Linked DNA regions of Homo sapiens: region 2 is linked to region 1. Evidence: fine-mapped expression QTL. A gene starts in region 1. The other region holds a variant in brackets. All regions are shown on one strand. Distances are between the middles of the regions. Region 1 holds the start of NRIP3 (nuclear receptor interacting protein 3). Region 2 overlaps SCUBE2 (signal peptide, CUB domain and EGF like domain containing 2).

The links. PIP is the estimated chance that this variant, and not a neighbour inherited with it, causes the effect.
Region 2: its variant is the best candidate, but not a certain one, in a credible set for the expression of NRIP3 in monocytes after interferon gamma (Fairfax 2014, PIP 0.74).

Annotation. Positions count from the first base shown.
Region 1 is chr11:9,002,796-9,005,604 of GRCh38, forward strand. It overlaps NRIP3 (nuclear receptor interacting protein 3), which reads right to left and starts at 1,206. Exons shown (of 7, transcript NM_020645.3): 1 at 967-1,206. The coding sequence starts at 1,140. It overlaps NRIP3-DT (NRIP3 divergent transcript), which reads left to right and starts at 1,293. Exons shown (of 3, transcript NR_183663.1): 1 at 1,293-1,748. RefSeq lists an enhancer at 383-1,302.
Region 2 is chr11:9,044,650-9,047,458 of GRCh38, forward strand. It overlaps SCUBE2 (signal peptide, CUB domain and EGF like domain containing 2), which reads right to left. Exons shown (of 23, transcript NM_001367977.2): 16 at 2,707-2,809. The region is part of intron 1 of NRIP3-DT (NRIP3 divergent transcript); the gene reads left to right. Among named protein-coding and RNA genes, the nearest start is that of NRIP3-DT, 42 kb to the left of the region's middle. RefSeq lists an enhancer at 2,389-2,809. The variant G/A (reference allele first, on the strand shown) is at 1,204.

The sequences.
Region 1 (2,809 bases):
TTACCACCCAAATGAATAAAGCGATTGTGAAATTCAAGAAAACAATCAAACTACAAGAAAACTCCAGATAAAACTACAAAGTTAAACATAAACTTGGCCCAGGACCACTACAGTGGCTGAGGGATGACAAATACAGTTCTTTATATTGGTAACCCTTAGCCATCCATCCCATTCTATAGAAAGAGGACAGTACCATCTTTGACCCCAGGCCCCCTGTCCTGAGGTGCTTCTACTTAATGCCAGGAACAACTGTGCTAGAAAAAAAGACTGCACCCACCCCAGCTCCAGATGCACACATTAGCTGGTCGGTGAGATGCAGCAGCCTGGCTTCCTCCCTCTACCCACTCCTTGGGGGCGGGGCTGGAAGAGGAGAATGATGAAGAGATGTTGGGGGTTCAGGAAACCTTCACATTTGGCCCCTTTTCTCTCTCCCCACTCAGGATGGAAGGTCAAAGTTAGGACCAAAACTAGAGAAGTGGGTTTTGCATAGGGGGACAATGGATTCAACAGAAGTCCTCTGGATCTGGCAACTGTCAAAAAACCCTCTTTCCACTTCTTTCCCCCTCACGGAAAGCCATTAGGAATCACCTCTGTCTGGGTCATAGGAACAGCCACACAGCATAGGAGGCACAAGCCCCGTGAACAAAATTCGGTATTAAGAATAAGGAAAAAGAAAGAAGACCCGAGGGCAAGAGGGCAGGGCAGGACCTCTTCTTTCTACTGGAGAAGAGACATCCAGGGAGGAGGCACAGCCGAGGGGAGCGCAAGCTAGAAAAGCTACGACGGAATCCCCACCGAAACCGCAGCAGGGGTACTGGAAGGGGAGGAATCCGCGACGCAGCGACCGCGAGCCAAGGGCAGCGGCGGGCCGGGCCGTGACTCAGTGAAAGCCGCAACGGCCGGGCCTCGGAAAACGGCGGGCGCGAAGCCGCCGGGGCCGGGGCGAGAACGGCGGCGGGGGCTCACCATGTCCTTGGACGAGCCCAGCTTCTTGAGGCCGTCCAGGGGCAGCAGGTCGGCGGAGTCCTTGTGGATGAACTGCACCGCCTGCTTCATCCGGCGCTGCTGTCGCAGTGACGCCGCCTCCCGCATGTCGGTCTCCTTGCGGCCGCCCTCAGTGAGGAGCCCTGAGTAAAACATCGCTGAGGCGCCGGCGGCCCGGTAGCCCACAGCCCCCCGGCAGCCTCAGCCTCGAGCTCCTCCAGCGCCGCAAGGGCCCCGAGCCGCGCCTTTTATAGCCGAGCGTGACGTCGCGGGGAGCAGCCAGTGCGCGCGCGGGGGGCGGGGCCGGCACAGAGTCCACGCCCCGCGCGGCTCCCTCGCGTCCCGCGTCCCGCGTCCCGCGTCCCCTGCTCACCCGGTGGCAAAGCCGGCGAGGAGGCGGCGGCGCTGGTGGGGACTGACCCGGCAGTCCGAGAATCCACCGCGGCCTTTTCACCCAACCGCCCCCTCCTGCGTGGGGGCCCCGCATCCCCTGGACTGGCGTGGGCTCTGGGGCCCGATGCCCTGGCAGCCCCGGCCATCTCTGCCGCTGGCCGCGGGTACCTGCTCACCTGTCCACGCCGTGGCCGACCCGGGGATCACCGACAGCCGGGCCATGCCTCGAGTCCCGCCGCCCGCGCCGCTGCTCGGCTTCTCAGAAACGCACCTCCACGCCGCCAGCCGGGGCTCCAGGGTCCACCGCCCGGGCCCGGAGGACTGGCGACTCCCTCCGAGGTTGGGAGCGCTCCGGATTTCTCCAACTTCAGGTCGGTCCCCACCCACCGGGCCACGTGACTGGGGAGGGGGCAGCCGGTGCAGGCGTGTGGAGGAGGCTTTCGGGACCTCCTCCCCCGGGCACCCTCTGCCTGCAGCCCGGCACCCGGCCCGCGTTTCCGAGCCGGGGGAGCAGGTGCAGTCGGAAGCCCGCGGGTGGGCGTGGGGCGGGGGAGTGGCGAGGGTCCCCCGCCTCCGCGGGAGCGCACGCGGCTGCGAGCCCTACACCTGCTCTCCGACCAAAGAAGCACCTGTTTTTCTCAATAAGTGCTAGGGCTTACCATCTAAAGGATCGTTCACCATCCCTCCAGCGTCCTTAGTAGGAGCGATTGGAACCCGTTTTTCTTCCTGAATAATCCATACTTTTAAGCCATTCTAATCGGGCCTTCAGGCATCCTGGATTCTGGTCTCGACATTGTGATTTGACACAAATCACGTTTTCACTCTGGAAACCACAACTACTCCCTCCACCCCATCACGCAGGAGCAGACCTGGATAAGAAATATGTGCACTCTGCAAAGAACCAATGATAAAAGTAACAATATCGACGCTTACTGAGCCTTTACTATGTGCCAGGTACTAGACTAGACACTTAAAATGCAGTATCTCATTGGATCCTGGCAACAGCTTGTAAGATAGTATTCTCATCACCCCCATTTTACAGGCAAATACCTGATACCTTCTGTCTGGCCTCCTGAATGCTCCTTGGTTCCATTCCAATACGTTGTTCACTGTGCTGCCAGAGTAATCTTCTCAAACGATAAGTGTGATCATCTCACTTCCCTGCTAAGAGCACCTCAAAAGGCTTCCTATTGCTCTTAGGAGAAACCCACATTCTTGCATGGTCTGCCTAGACCCTGCATATTCACTCTGTACTTCAGCCTCATGGGCCTTCTTCCAGTTCCTTCCAGTCACCTGTTGCCAAATGGCCTGCCTTTGACTGTCCTGTTCCCTCTGTGTGCAGTGCCCCCTCCTACCCTCTTCAGGAAACTCCTATGCTTCTTCCAGACCTCAGCTCCATTATCATTTCTTTAGGAAAGCCTTCTCTGACCTT
Region 2 (2,809 bases), 42 kb after region 1:
GCTTCCTTTCTCATCAGATTCGGGATCAGGGTCCTCCCTGGTTTCGAGTTCCCTCTGCTACTGCTCTGCCCTTGCTCTCCCTCCCTGCCTCTCTCAGCTCTCATCCTTCTGGCCTTCCTTCCAGTACCTTGGGGTTTTCCTATTTGTTGTTCTCTTTGCCTGAAACTCTCTTCCCCCAGATATCTCCATAGCTTGCTTCTTGCTGTCCTTTGCGTCTCTGCCCAAATGACACTTTGTAATGAGGCCTTCCCTGACCACAGTCTGCACTTTGGGGGAGTACGCTCCTCATCCCTCACCCCTCACCTTGGCCTGGCACTTTCCATTCCACTTCCCTGCAGCCCTGCTCTCCATATCCCTGTCGCCCTCTGCTACATGATAGTAGTATCTTTCCTCGTTTATTGGTTGGTTGTCTACCTTCTTCCTCTAAAATTGTAAACTCTGTGAGGGCTGAGATGTTTGCGTGTTTCTTTATTGCTGGATTCCTGATATCTAGAATGGTACCTGGCACACAATTGGTGCTCAATAAATATTTATTGAATGACTATATAAAATTTCCTTTTTATATGTGCATAAAAACAGTTGTGGAAAAATCACACAGCAAACTATAACAGTGATTACTGCTGGGGAGTTGGATTAGGGAGCTGTGGAGAGAACTTTCATCTTTACTGTATACATTTCTGTGCCATTTGAAACAGGCACTACTTTCATAATTGAAAACTAAATTTAAAATATTTAAAAAGATAAACATAATGGTTCCATCTCTCCCCCCAGGAGAGATGGAAGTGACTCCATTTTTCTTTTTTTGAGCTCTTTTCTGCAAATACCGAAAATCATTTCTAAAAGGAACTATCCTAAGCTTGTCTCCACTGTACCATCCAGAGCTCAGAAAACATCAGCAAGCCTGGTCTTTATGAAGTCCTAACACCATCAAATAGACCAGGACTAGAAGACAGACAGACAGACACACACACACACACACACACACACACACACACACACACACACAGCCTTGTCTATGCCACATGCTGCCTTCTGGATAAAAAGCCTTTCTAATTAACACACCTGACACTTCTTTACACCCACTTCCTCCCTCAGCAGCAAGAGGGAATGTCACTGGTAACTGCTTGAGCCGTTTTCTCTGCATGGTAAAATCTTCAACATTGCTGTCAGACCTGGACCTGATTTGATGCTGTGAGGGCTACA[G/A]AATTCATCCAGTGTTTGGGAGCTCCTGAGACAAGACACATTGGCTCCCCTAGAAACAAATCAAACCTAATTTAGCATGACAAGCATCTCAGGGACACATTCACACACCACCACAGCTACACAAACCCTCTACTGAGTGTCTTTCTTTCTTTTTTTTTTTTTTTTTTTTTTTGAGACGGAGTCTTGCTCTGTCGCCCAGGCTGGAGTGCAGTGGCACGATCTCGGCTCACTGCAGCCTCCAACTCCCTGGTTCAAGGGATTCTCCTGCCTCAGCCTCCCGAATAGCTGGGAGTATAGGCACGCGCCACCACGCCCAGCTAATTTTTTGTATTTTTTTAGTAGAGGCGGGGTTTCACCATGCTGGCCAGGATGGTCTCGATCTCCTGACCTCGTGATCTGCCCGCCTTGGCCTCCCAAAGTGCTGGGATTATAGGTGTGAGCCATCATGCCTGGCCCCGAGTGTCTTTCGTAGGCTGTTGTGGTCATGAAGCCCCTGTTAAGTAACTCCTGCTCCTTATCCTTGGGCCTTTACTCCCCAGGAACATACCCATGGTAGTATTAGTGATACCCTCACTGGGAGCCAGTCCATGGGGCCCTTGACATTAGGTTTTCTTGACTTTTTAACTGGCCACAAAGACTCCCTGGCCCGTCCGTGAGGCCTAACCCCAACAGGATAGCAGACGGGGGAGGGGTGCAGTGTAACCCTGAGAGGCCAGGAGGGCCCTGACAGTTTCTGCAACTCATCCTGGAAAGTAGGGCAGCCACAGCCAACTCTCCCCACTATTTTAGTACGGAAACTGGAACTCTTAGAATTTTAAATGAGAACAGATCAACCAGCTGGGCTGTTTTTACTTTTTTCCACTTTGTTTCTTTTTAAGAGAATCAGCTGGAATGAAAATCAAGACTATCTGGAAACCAGCCTCTTGTAGACAGTTACACTTGATTTTGCACTTGATTTTCACTAAGTTTTGGCAAAGCAACAAATTTGAGCTGTGGGCCTAAGGCTGACAATTCTCTGGAACAAGTGCCCCTGGATTCAGCTTTGCTTACTTAGAAATACAAATGGGATTCTTACTCCTTAGCTAAGCTTGGGCCTCATGATTCTACTGATACTTAGGAAAAGGACATCAGTTTATCCTGGAGAAATCTAATTACTGAAATTCACCCTGCTTGGGACCAGAGCACAGGCTTTGGAATCAGAACATCAGCCACTTCTTTCCTGTTCCTCAAGTCAACCAACATTTTAGTGCCCACCACAAGCCAGATACTATGCCAGGTGCTGAGGACAGGGAGATGAATGAGGTCAGTCTCACTCCGGGGAGCTCTGGGCCTAGCAGGGACGACAGACACAAACGCAACAGTTACTGAAACAGAAGCACTGCCCGGAGTGTTCTCTAAAGTGAGCCCTGAGAAGGGAGGATGGGCCAGACTTGCCTTCGGTTACCCTGAGTGTTTATGGAGCCCAAGGCTGTTCTGTTAGCAAGAATGTCCCAGGCCACTCACCACATTGGTTTTCTGCATGACCCTGGCCCACTCCACAGGACTCTGCCTGGCGTTCAGATGTTCTGGGAGGCTTTTTAGCCACGTCGAGGTTCATGCCTGAGAG